Linked DNA regions of Homo sapiens: region 2 is linked to region 1. The links come from fine-mapping of genetic effects on gene expression. Tissue or cell type: whole blood. Region 1 holds a variant in brackets; the other region holds the start of a gene. All regions are shown on one strand. Distances are between the middles of the regions.

Region 1 (6,765 bases):
ATGGTAACCATTATGTTTACAGATCCTAAGTGGTGCCAAAGGGATTGGTGGAAATGGAACATGTCCCATGAGCCCACAGCTGGGTCTTTTCAAAGTCTATGACGTTGCTCTGAGCTGCCTTGAGGATGTGTGTATGGGTCAGAGTGGGCCCAGGGGTGGAGGTCAGCTATATCCAAACTGCTCTTCTCACCCAACGCCCCGTCTCCCCAGATTAAGGTGATCACTGAAATGGAACTAATTTTCCTCTACAGGGATCAGAACATCATGGCACTGTACTTGAACGTTCTTAATCTCCTCAAAGGCCTTTATGGTTGTTCAATGCAATCTTCAGAGTCAGAAGCTGATCATGAGGCCAAATCTTAGCAAACCAATTCAATTTTAGAAAACCAAAAACTTAACTTTCCAAGCTCTACCACTGCATCTGGCCACTTGGCACCCCTGAAACGCTGCCTTCCATCCTGTGACTGTGGATGATGAACCTGCTGCGAGCTCCTGGCTGCGGCCCCAGCACCCGCATTAGATAACCCTCCTGTGATGCTTGTCTTTTGCTTTGACCAGTTCTTACTCACTTGGTATTTAATGCTCTTTCTGAGCTTCAGTGCAGATAATTTAATAAGGTGGGATTTTCTCCTTCTCTTTCAACACCCTGAGTTTTTTTTTTTTTTTTTTTTTTGAGACAGGGTCTCACTCTATCACCCAGGTTGGAGTGCAGTGGTGCGATCTTGGCTCATTGCAACCTCTGCCTCCTCCAACCTGCCCTCCTGTGACTTTGCCCATTCTAGTAATGGCAAGCCATCCTCCCATCTCGACCTCCCAAGTAGATGGGACTACAGGTGTACGCCACTGCGCTCAGCCAATTTTTGTAGAGATGGGGTTTCTCCATGTTCCCCAGGCTGGTCTGGAACTCCTGAGCTGAAGCAATCCTCCTACCTCAGCCTCCCTCCCAACGTCCTGGGATTACAGGCATGAACCACCGCACCGGCCACCACCCTGGTATTTATGATAGCAAAATGTGTATATTTTAGTAGCTAACAAAGGTTTGGGAGAACAGTAGAATTCATCTCTCTCTGGGAAGAAAGTGCTTTGAGCACTGCCTGGCACAACATAAGGGCAATATACATGTTTGTTACAAAGAAATGTTAAATAAATAAGGGCATAATAAAGTTCTAAATTGAGTCTTTGGAGATATTTCGATAAACGTAAAATTCAGAACAGTTTACCAGGAAAGTCTTTTCAACAATGTTTCCTATTTATGCAATAAAACATAGAGAAGGGTATAGAGAAGGAAGCAGTTCCAGCAATTCCCCTCTCCCAGGTCGCCAGGTTTCCCTCCTGCGCTGACTCCCACACATGCTGTTGTTTCTTGCATCTTAAAATGAGAAAGAAAATACTCAACCCCACTTCTCTTCAGCTGCTGTCTCATCTTCTCTCCTCTGTCTCCCAGTTCTTCCTCCCATTCCCTCTTGAACTCACTCTGATCAGCCTTTCACCCCCACCACACCATCAAAAGGCAAAGGTCACCAACAATCTCATTGCTAAATCCAGTGATCAGGGCTGGGTTGTTATTCATGAGACCCACCAGCCTCCCCTCCCTGTTCAGCTGTCCTCGTGTGTCTCCACAGCCGCTCCCTCCTGGTCTCTGTGGCTGACTCAGCCTCCTCCCCTACGTCTCCACGTTGGCCTCTGTGCTCTACTGATTCTCTGGGTGTTTAATCTGGGCTCATGACTTTAAACACTATGTGAATGCTGCTGACTCCCCACTTATAAGTCCAACTTGGGTCTCCTCCCTGGTCCTATGTAGTCACAAGACCTACGTGGCCAAAGATAAACTCCTGATGGCCCCCAACCTGCCCTCCTGTGACTTTGACCATTCTAGTAAGTGCAAACATGATCCTTCTAGTTATTCAGGGCAAACACTCTGCTGTCTTCCTGGGCCGCTGTCTTTCTCTTGTGTCCCGTCCCCACCAGCAAATCTGATTGGCTCTGCTCTCAGGCCTTGGCGGACTCCATCACTTCCTACACCCCCACTGCAAACCTTCTTCTCCACATCACCAGGTCCCTTAACTGAATTGTCAATCGTCTCCTCTATGTGATGTGACGTTGGGCCTGCTGTGTCCCCTTCAGGGCTGAGACTGCTAGGAGTGTCACCTGTGGGGCGCCTCCCCAGGAACCATCCTCAGCCAAAGACAAACTGCCTTAGCCAAGGTTCTGACCCCTCCCCGGAGCAGCCCACATCCCAGGACTGGCCCCAGTGGGGCTACAAAGCCCGGCCCCCTTGCCTTGATTCAGACCTTCTCTCAAGGACCACTCTGGCCCAGAGCTTCCCCCAAGATCATCTGAGGACTCTGTTGTCTCCTCGGCCACGTCCTGCCTCCCTCACTCCCTCACAGGTGCGGCTCCCGCAGGCACAGTCCCACAGGCTTCCTGAAAACAAATTCCATCCAGAGTCTGCTTTCTAGGGAACTTGACCTAACATTTCTCCCACTGGGCCTCTTCCTACTGTTCCCAACATGGTGGCCAGAGTGAGCTGGTTAAAACAGGTCTGTTCATGTCATTCCTCTGCCAAACATCTAGAAGCTTCCATTTCACTCAGAGTCAAGGACAGCATGACCTGTGTACTGATGTGAGAGCCCCTCACCTCTCTGACTCAGTCCCCATGCACTCTCCCCTTTCCACCCCACTGCAGCCACAGTGCATCTCCTTGGCGCGCCTGGGCCAGATCAGCCTCCTTCCTACCTCTGAGCCTTGGCATGTGATGTTCCCGCTGCCTGGAATAAGCATCCCCTGACGTCCACACAGTTTAGCCCCCACTTCCTTCAGGTCT[G/T]TATGCAGATGTCACCTTCTCAGGGAGGCCTCCATGGCCATTCTGTTTACAGGTTCAAAGCCCCTGTCTTTCACAGCTCCTATCTGTGAAAGCAGCTCCTCCTGCTTTCCTTTTTCTCTTTAGCACCTGTCACCACCTAACATGTTATGTGTTTCACTCTTTCATCATGATTATTGCCTACTCCCCCACACAGTGTGTGCTCCACAAGGGCAGAGCTTTTGTATTGTGCACTGCTGGATGCTCAGAGCCTAGCTAGTCCCTGGCATGGAGTGCTCAGTGAATATCTCTTGAATAAAATACATTTTAGAAATCTATCTATTCCCTTCAGTTCATGCAACTGCAATCAAATTCTCATGTATGGTTTACATCCATGTAGTTTAAGTGTCATAAAGCCACAGACAACATACCTGGGCTACAGTGTCTATGATTCTCCCTTTGATGTGGACATCCTCCAGAGGAACCAAGTTCCCAGAGGCATCCTGGAGGCCGGCCTTGGTGCTGCTGGAAGTTTTGGCATCTGGTAACTGGTAATCTAAACGTTAAAAATGTTACTATTAGCTTTCAAAACCATCCCTGTCTATTTTTGTTATCTTGATCTTTATTCCTTCTTCAAGCCTTCATGCATTTTATTTTAGGGAAAATGGGCAAATAGCATTTTATGATTTTCAATAGCCAATTCTGAAAAGCAAGTGAACCCACATGAGAAAAATGAGAGGTGCCTTCTGCCTTTTTTTTTTTGAGATAGCATGTCACTCTGTCACCCAAGTGGGAGTGCAGTGGCACAATCTCTGCTCACAGTAGACCCCTCCTCTCTGGCTCAGGTGATCCTCCTGTCTCAGCCTCCCGAGTAGCTGGGACTATAGGCATGCACCACAATGCCCAGCTAATTTTTTGGTATTTTTTGTAGAGATGAGGTTTAGCCATGTTGTCCAGGCTGGTCTTGAACTCCTGGACTCAAGGGATCTACCTGCCTTGACCTCCCAAAGTGCTGGGACTATGGGCGTGAGACACTACACCTGGCCTGCCTTTTTTTTTGTTTTTTAAAGACCCTTCAGCTTAAATTTTTTTTTCTTCTTTTCTTTTTTTTTTCTTTGGTAGAGATTGGAGTTTCACTATGTTGCCCAGGCTGGTTTTGAACTCCTGTGCTCAAGTAATCCTCCTGCCTTAGCCTCTCGAGTAGCTGCGACTACAGACATGTGCTCTTCTGCCTTTTTAATGTAGAGACTGTGGGGTGTCCTCCTGAAAACACAGCATTACTTGACATACATTTAAACATACACACAAATACACAGAGGTCTTCAGACTGTCTGAAGTGTGGCTGAAGCCTGAATCCAGGTGTCTGCATTCCCTGGCTTATAGTGTGGAAGGGCTCGGTCACTATTATTTATGGTGCCACACAAGCATTTTGGGATGGCATCAAACAACGTAGATTTTCAATCCAAGGAAGACTGAATCAACTCCTATGGCAGCATATTGAAAAATGTACACATCCTATTCTAAGTGGCACAAACATACAGATAAGGTTAGGAAATATAAATACATATTGTCTTGCCAGATATTTCACTTAATGACTCCCAGAGAAAAAACTGGAGTCACCCCTGAACACACATGAACTCATGCGTTTCTGACAAAAAATAATTTGAGCATGGTCAAAAATGTTAATGTGTTCTTACAGTCCTACTAATTAATACTGTAATTGTTTGGCCTCATGATACTCTGAGAAGTGAATATCCTCTTGTATGCTCGCACTACTATGGCTAACACACGCACCACACATGGCAATTTACTCAGTGCCTTCAATTTCCCCTTCAGCCCTTACAGCAATTCTGTCATGCGGGTACTGCTCTCATTCCCATCGGAGAGAAGGTGGAGCGCAAAAGGTCATGCAGTTTCAAAACTGCAAGGTGGCAGGGCGACACTCAAACCCTGGGCTTCCTGGCTCTACAGCGGCTCTGCTGTCTGCTCTCCCCACCCCATTACACTTTCTGCACCATGACATCTTAGCAAGGTTCCACAGGTTTTAGCCTTGGCTATTCCTGAAGCGAATAAGCTCAACTTCAGTGTGTTAATGAAGTCACATGGAATTTCTCAATCATCCTAGTTGTTATGTACGCAAGATAAAAAAGGAAATGAGGCTGGCCATGGTGGCTCATATCTGTAATCCCAGCATTTTGGGATACCAAGGCAGGAGGATCGCTTAATGCCAGGAATTTCAGGCCAGCCTAAGCAACATAGTGAGAATTTGTCTCTAAAAAAAAAAGTCACGGATGGTAGTCCTAGCTACTCAGGAGGCTGAGTCAGGAGGATCATTTGAAACCCAGGAGTTTGAGGCTGCAGTGCACTTTGATCACACACTGTACTCCAGCCTGGGGGACAGAGTGAGACCCTGTCTCAAAAAAAAAGAAATATATATATTTTAAAATTAAGTGCTTTATTTTGATACTAGGCAGAGGGGTTTGACTGATGTTAACACTGAGAGAAATTTGTGGGAAACAATTTTGAGATTGAAAGGAAATGAAATACTTATGGATGAGGTCATAGATATAACAAATGCAAATATACATTCCATTGAAAATATAACATTTGAGGTCTATAAATATAATAACATAAAACAGCATTCAAGAAAATTGTCCTACCTTCAACCTTTGAAAAATTTGAAAACTCAGGTCTGTATTCCTCTAATTCAGTATGATCACTAGGATGAAAGTCCTTTATCTGATCTCCAGGCATGGAAAATTTAATAATATATTTCATTTTAACCTGATTGGTTTTATAGACAACAAATTCATCATCCTAGAGCAAACAGAAATCAGTAGGTGATTAACAACAGAAGCAACAAAAAACCTGTATTGGCAGATGTTTTCATAAAAGCATGTTTGCTAATTTAGAAAATGTTGAATTAATTCATGCAGTAAATATATAACAATTATTTAAACTTAAGCATATTTAATGAAAATAGGAGCAAAAAACTAAGGCCTTTCTTTGAGCATTCAAGACCCTCTTTGCTTCTTCCTTGAAATAAAAATACCTCAAAGTCTGTGGTGACAGAGGCTGTTTGCGAAACTCCATGCACACTGTCGTAGCCTGGTGGTGCTTCAGTTAAGGAAAAGTCCTTCTCATGTAAGTCCATACACTTTCCGAGGGCTACGTCACAAATGAGCAGGAGTCTGGTGCCATCTGTCTCTCCCGGGTGTGAGTACTTGATACTTGTACTACATGCGAAAGGAAATAAACACATATTTACAGCTTAGAGTGACTTGTCAATAACATACTATTGAAAAGACTTTCCTGGTAAACTGTTCTAAATTTTCCTATTATTGAAATATCTCCAAAGACTCAATTTAGAACTTTATTATGCACTTATTTATTTAATATTTCTTCTTTTTTTTTAGACAGAATTTTGCTCTGTTACTCAGGCTAGGGTGCAGTGGCATGATCATAGCTTATTGCAGTCTCCAACTCCTGGGCTCAACTGATCCTCCTGCCTCAGCCTCCTGAGTAGCTGGGACTATAGATGTGCACCACACCTAGCTAACTTTTAAAATTTTCTGCTAAGATGGGGTCTCACTATGTTTCCCAGGCTGGTCTCGAACTCCTGGGCTCAAGTGATCCTCCCTCCTCAGCCTCCCAAAGTGCTGGGATTACAGGCATGAGCAACCATGCCTGGCCTATTTCGCATTTCTATGTGACAAATATGTATACTGCCCTTATGTTGTGCTAGGCAGTGCTCAAAGCACTTTGTTTCCAGAGAGAAATGAATTCTACTGTTCTCCTAAATCTTTGTTAGCTACTAAAATATACACATTTTACTATCATAAATACCAGGGTGGTAAAGAGAAGGAAAAATCACCACCTTATTAATTAGGAAAAAGTAGATTTAATTCTCTGCACTAAAGCTCAGAAAGGAATAAGAACCGTGGGTACCAAGTGAGTAAGAACTG
Region 2 (6,765 bases), 38 kb after region 1:
CCTAGCCCCCACTGTTGATATTTTAATTTTTTTGGTGTTATTATTTCTTGTATCATTGTATTTTCTAAATTATTAATATTCTATATTTAATGTTATAGCCAGTTGCTCTTTACTTTTTAAATAGGACTTTCACTTTCACAGCTTATTTAGCTTTTAGTGATATCCTCCCCATGTCACTAAATATTCTTTGAAGGTGTTTTTAGTGGTTACATAAGCTTTGCGTTTATTTCATCCTTCCCCAAGTCATCAGATACTTGGTTACTTAAAAGTGTTCACTATTGGCCGGGCGCGGTGGCTCACACCTGTAATCCCAGCATTTTGGGAGGCCGAGGCGGGCGGATCACGAGGTCAGGAGATCGAGGCCATCCCGGCTAAAACGGTGAAACCCCGTCTCTACTAAAAATACAAAAAATTAGCCGGGCGTAGTGGCGGGTGCCTGTAGTCCCAGCTACTTGGGAGGCTGAGGCAGGGGAATGGCGTGAACCCGGGAGGCGGAGCTTGCAGTGAGCGGAGATCCCGCCACTGCACTCCAGCCTGGGCGACAGAGCGAGACTCCGTCTCAAAAAAAAAAAAAAAAAAGTGTTCACTATTAGAAATACACTTTAATTAAAATGCTTGTACATATATTTTTTTGCCACATCTCTGTCATAGTTTCCCTAGAGTTGATGGCCAGAAATGGAATTACTGAATCAAGGAGTATAAACATTTTTTAGCCTTTTAAAAATTGTGGTACAGTTTTTAAAACTGTGTGTACAGTTCAGTGGCATTAAGTACATACACATAGTTGTGAAATCAAAGTATAAACATTTTATTTTATTTGAGACAGGGTCTGGCTCTGTCTCCCAAGCTGGAGTGCAGTGGTGTGGTCACTGTCACAGCTCACTGCAACCTCGACCTCCCTCCCAGCAATCCTTTCACCCGGCCTACTTAGTAGCTGGGACCACAGGCCTGCACCACCATGCCCAGCTAATTTTGGTAGAGACAGGGTTCTTACTATGTTGCCAAGGCTGGTCACAAACTCCTGGGCTCAAGCCATCCTCCTGCCTCAGCCTCCCAGAGTGCTGGGGTTACAGGTGTGAGCTGCCACGCCCGGCCCAGAGTAAAAACATTTTAAACATAAATCTGCGGTCTGTTCTTAGCACCTGCGGCTGCGTGGGAGGTATGGAAAGGCGCACTTTGGGTTTCGTGAAATCTCAAGTCAGGTCTTGACTTCTCTCTTTCCACAGATTCATCTCTAGTCTCTGTAAAATGCCAGCCCTCTTCTGGGTTAACAGCGCCTAACCGACATGCGCCACTAGTTCTTCCTTGTTTCAAAGTGTTCTCTAAACACAGAGTTAGTTCATGTTTTCATCAGCGCTGATTACGTACATATGAGATGTGGCGGACACTGGGCTAGGGGCTGGTTATTCTCTAAGGCAAATCTGCACAGTCACTCCAGCCTGTCCCCCTTCCCAGCTTCTTCCCCAAATAACATTCACAGAGTGTCTTCCACCCAAAGACAGCAGGGAACAGCCCCGATTCCTAAGAAACCCTCAGCGCGCCTCCTCACAAACTCTTGGCTGCTCCATAAACCATTGGTGTAGGTGGAATCAAGTGGCTTCCTGCTTCACAGGTCTTCGTCTTTACCACTGGCATTTCCTCCTCTCGGAAAACCCTGAGGAGTCCCTTTCTGGGCAGTCTTGATTCTACAGCCTCCGCCTTCCGAAGTGTGTGAGTCAGCACACGCTAAGATCACTTTTGATATACAGTGGGCATTCAATAAAAGCTTGCTTACTAAAAACTCTCACGTATCCATTAAAGCCCAGGATTACAGAAAAGCCTTCTGACACTATTTGCATTTTGGACTCAAATGGCATCAGTAATGCACCTCCCTAATGGGTTTATTAAACCCTTAAACAACAAAGGTACTACTTTTATTTCACTCCTACATGATATACAGTAGCTCTACGCACACAAACAAGACCTAATGTTTACTTAATAAATGATAAAGTCAGATGTAATGAGTCTGCAACACGCACATCTCAGAGCGAACTTCCCCTTTATCATAGCACTATGCTTGGATATTGTCATATAATTGTTGTCATCCAGCAGTCCAGAATTGAAAGTGCTTGGGCTTGAATATTTAGCAGCGCCTTAGTTTTCTAGAACCTGTGATCTACCAACTCGATCCCTGGGTGAACCATTCGGCCCTCCTAGCAGGAATTACTTAACTGAGTTAGAGGTTTTCAACTTTGGACCTCAACAAACACATTGTTTCTATCACGGTGTTCCCAATGACTCACGAGGTCAGATAGTACTTCCTGATTACTCACCAAACCACCTTACTTTTTGCACAATTCGAAACCTAACTTTAGGAAAGAAGGCCGTTTGGCATACTGGAAACAAGAAACAACGCGTGCTACTGCGAACCGCACCGCACGGGGTGCGGAGACTTGGTGTGACTGTCGGCTCCGGTGGGCGCCCCCCACCGCACCCGGTTTCTCGTCACCAGGGCTGCGCCGCGGGGCAGAGCGGAACGACCGCAATATCCCTCCCCGAGGGCGCTGGCTGCACTAGCTAGTCCACTCCCGAGCCTAGCAGCGCCGTCAGGCCCACAGCGCCAACGCCGCGCAGGGCAAGGGTGCAGCCACTGGCGGGAAAGTAGTACGCGGGCCACTTCCTGGCTAGGACTACAGGGACCTTTGCAGCCCCCCACCCCGCAGCGCCCACGCACCTGCCTAGAGGATCCAGCTAGCTCCGGACGCTCCCCGATTCCGCGCTCCTTGCTCGCGGTACTTCCGTAATCTAGGCTCTCCCTGCCCCCGGGGCTGGGCGGGCGCCACTGCGCCGGAACCCCGCCCCGCACCAGGCGGGCGCAGCGTCCCAAGCAGGGACGATAGCCGGAACGCGCCCGGAATCGGGTCCGCCAGGTGGGGAGCGGGTCCCCGGCCTCTGGCGGGGTTTCTCTTCCAAGATCAGCCGGAGGGTTCAGGGCTTTCAGTTTCATATTTCAGGAGGGATTTTGTCAATGAGGATTAATACAAAGCTCGGCTTTGAGAGAGGTGGGTGGATGGTGCTGTCCTTTAACTGAGAAATGGAAGGGATTCACAAGGCCGGGAAAGAAGAAAATTTCGGGAAAGTTCGTGGAAACAGGAGAGTGAGATAATAAATTTACTTTAAGCCTTCCTGCGTTTGAAATTCGTGACAGTGTAACTAGTTGGAAATATATTTATCTGCCATTCAAGAGAGGCAGGGGGCTGGAGATACAGATCTGAGATTCACTGAAATGGGAATAAAGCAATGGGGAAGATTCAGATTTTTAGGATACTGAATAAAATGAGAATAGAAAGGATAGAGTAGAGAATACAGTGGAAAGGGTATGGGGTTGAATCCTGACTCCACAATTTATTACCAAGGGGGCTGGGGACAAGGTAATTTACCAAGTTTCATCATTACAACCTACTCTATAGGGTTGTCTAAGAAACAACAAGAGATTCTGGGGGAGGAGAGAGACTGATTCCTAGAGTTACCACATCGTAATGCTCAAAATGTCCAATCTTCAACAAAAAATTATGAGGCATGCAAAAAAAAAGGCGAAAAAATGGCCAATTCAAAGGAAAAAAGAAATGAACAGAAATTGTCCCTGAGCTGAGGAAGCACAGACATAGGAATTATTAGACAAATACTTCAAATAAACTGTCTTAAACATGGACAAAAAGTGAAAGGAAACATAGAAAAATAACTGAAAGAAACAACCAGGAGAACAAAGTCTCAATAAATAGAGAATATGCAATAGAAGATGTGCAAATGGTCAACAAGCATGAAAAAAAGCCCAGCATAACTAATTATCAGAAAAGTGCAAATTAAAACTGCAATGAGATACCATCTTACACCAGTCAGAATGGTTATTATTAAAAAGTCAAGGAACAACAGATGCTGGCAAGGCTTTATTGAAAAGGAAATGCTTATACACTGTCAGTGGGAATGTAAATTAGTTGAACCACTGTGGAAACCAGTTTGAAGATTTCTCAAAGTGCTGAAAACAGAACTGCTATTCAACCCAGCTATCCCATTACTGGGTACATATTCAAAACAAGAGAACTCATTCTACCAAAAAGACACATGCACTAGTATGTTCGTCACAGCACGCTTCACAATAGGAAAGACATGGAATGAACTTAGGTGCTCATCGACAATGGACTGGATAAAGAAAATGTGGTACATTTGCACCATGGAATACTACGAAGCCATAAAAAGAATGAATGGAATCATGTCCTTCACAGCAACGTGACTGCAACTGGAGGCCATTGTCGTAAGTGAATTAATGAAGGAACAGAAAACCAAATACCACATGTTCTAATTTGTAAGTGGGAGCTAAACACTGGGTACTCATGGATATAAAGATGGCAACAATAGACACTGGGGACAACTAGACAGGGAGGGAGGGGGAGGGGCAAGGGTTGAAAAACTATTGGGTACTATGCTCAGTCCCCGGGTGAGGGGCTCAGTCATACCCCAAACCTCAGCACCACGAATTATATGTAGGTAACAAGCCTGCACATGTACCCTCTGAATCTAAAATAAAAGTTGAAATTATTTAAAAAACAAATAAGGAATATTAATAAAGAGATAGAAATTATAAAAGGAACCAAACACATTTTGGAACTGAAAAGAACCAAAAAGAAATTGTGTAGTTAAAAAGTACAATAGGACCAGGCATGGTGGTTCATGCCTGTAATCCTAGTGTCTTGGGAGGCCAAGGCGGGAGGATCGCTTGAGACCAAGAGTTTGCCTTGGCAACATAGGGAGATCCCCTCTCTACAAAAAAATTACAAAATTAACCGGGCATGGTGGTGCATGCCTGTGGCCCTAGCTACTCAGGAGGCTAAGGCAGGAGGATCACTTGAGCCAAGAAGTTCATGGCTGCAGTGAGCTAAGATCACACTCCTGCACTCCAGCCTGGGTGACAGAGCAATATCTTGTCTCAAAAAAAAAAAAAAGAAGAAGAAAAGAAAAAGAAAAAAATACAATAACTTAAATGAAAAATACACAAGTGATGCTCCAGAGTAGATTTGAGCAGGTAAGAGAAGGAATGAGCAAACTCGAAGATAAAACTGTTGAAATTATTAACTCTGAGGAGCAGAAAGTAGAAGAATGAAGATCAAAGTCCAAAAGATTTGTGGACACCATCAAGTGTATCAGCATATGCATAAAGGGGGTCCCAGAAAGAAAGATGAGGGTGAAGGTGGCAGGAAGAGTATCTGAAGAAACAGTGGCTCCAAAGTCCCCAATTTGTTAAAATACATAATGTAACACTTCAGAGAAGCTCCATGAACTTCAAGTATGATAAACTCAAAAAGTCCACAATAGAGTTATATTAATAATCAAACTGTTGAAAGCCAAAGACAGAGAGAAGCTTAAAAGCAGCTAGACAGAAATGATCACTACATACAAAGGAACTTGAATAAGATTAACAGCCAATCTATTACCATGGGAGCCAGAAGGCAGTGGGATGATATAAAGTGCTGAAAGAAAACAAACAAACCGGCAACCATGAATTCTATATCTGTTAAAACTCTCCTCCAAGAAATGATAGGCCAGGCACGGTGACTCATGCCTGTAATCCTGGCACTTTGGGAGGCTGAGGCAGGTGGATTGCTTGAGCCCAGGAGTTCAAGACCAGCCTGGGCAACATGGTGAAAACCCATCTCTACAAAAAATGCAAAAATTAGCCAGGTATGGTGGCATGTGCCTGTCATCTCAGCTACCTAGGAGGCTGAGGCAGGAGGAACACTTGAGACCTGGAGGTTGAGGCTACAGTGAGTTGTAATTGTGCCACTGCCCTCCAGCCTGGGTGATAGAGTCATCCCATCTAAAAAAAATGTGTAATAAAAACCTATAGAATGCTTGAAGAACCATCCAACTACTATATAATTATTGCTATTTTTGAAGAAAGCAAAAATACAGGTGTGACAACTATTATGGTATTGTTCTGCTCTTATTACAACAAAGATTCAAGCTAGAAATCCTTTACTATCTATTCAACTTCATTCATCATTGGTCAGGCATTCTAGAATGTAGTGGATGTGATAATCCCTTTGCTGTATAGACTCATTAGGTTTCCAGGATGTTTTGTTGTAAGTCCAATGCACCAGCAATAGATTTACCTATATCAAACTGCCAAGATTTAAAAAATGTCTCTCAGCACCCAAGGTTGTTGTTAGAAACTTTCCAGAAGTAATTCTGGAAATCTGAGGTTTCAGGCCTTGGTGAAGAACTCCTTCACTCTTCCTGCAGGTGAAGGAGGATGTGGGTTTTCTTGGGTTTGCCTAGAGGCCAGACACATGCATCTCTCAGTGCATCTTCCCAACCTGTTAGAATTCCCCTTTCTGGCCTGGAAGACATGGGCTTGGGGATCATCCCTTGGCCAGGCTAGCACTTATGTTCTCTCTTTTTTCTTTTTAAGAGTTGGGGGTTTCACTCTGTCGCCCAGGCTGCAGTCTAGTGGTGTGATCATAACCTTAAACTCCTGGGCTCAAGTGATCCTCCTGCCTGAGCCTCCCAAGTAGCTAGGGCTACAGGTGCATGCCACCATGCCTGGCTAACATTCAAACTTCTGGGCGCGAATGATCCACTTCAGTGTTTCAAAGTGCTGGGATTACAGGTGTAAGCCACTGCACCTGACATGTCCTCTCTGGACAGAGTGGACACTTGCTACCATCAGACCAACAATGAAAAGTTGTGAACTCTTGGCTGGGTGTGGTGGCTCATGCTTGTAATCCCAGC

What was found. PIP is the estimated chance that this variant, and not a neighbour inherited with it, causes the effect.
Region 2: PARP4 starts here. The variant in region 1 is fine-mapped to the expression of PARP4 in whole blood (INTERVAL, PIP above 0.99).

Annotation. Positions count from the first base shown.
Region 1 is chr13:24,472,241-24,479,005 of GRCh38, forward strand. It overlaps PARP4 (poly(ADP-ribose) polymerase family member 4), which reads right to left. Exons shown (of 34, transcript NM_006437.4): 13 at 5,853-6,036; 14 at 5,461-5,617; 15 at 3,232-3,356. Among named protein-coding and RNA genes, the nearest start is that of PARP4, 37 kb to the right of the region's middle. The variant G/T (reference allele first, on the strand shown) is at 2,825.
Region 2 is chr13:24,509,993-24,516,757 of GRCh38, forward strand. It overlaps PARP4 (poly(ADP-ribose) polymerase family member 4), which reads right to left and starts at 2,786. Exons shown (of 34, transcript NM_006437.4): 1 at 2,714-2,786. All of the region lies in intron 1 of LOC105370117 (a long non-coding RNA gene), which reads left to right. RefSeq lists a silencer at 2,784-2,943.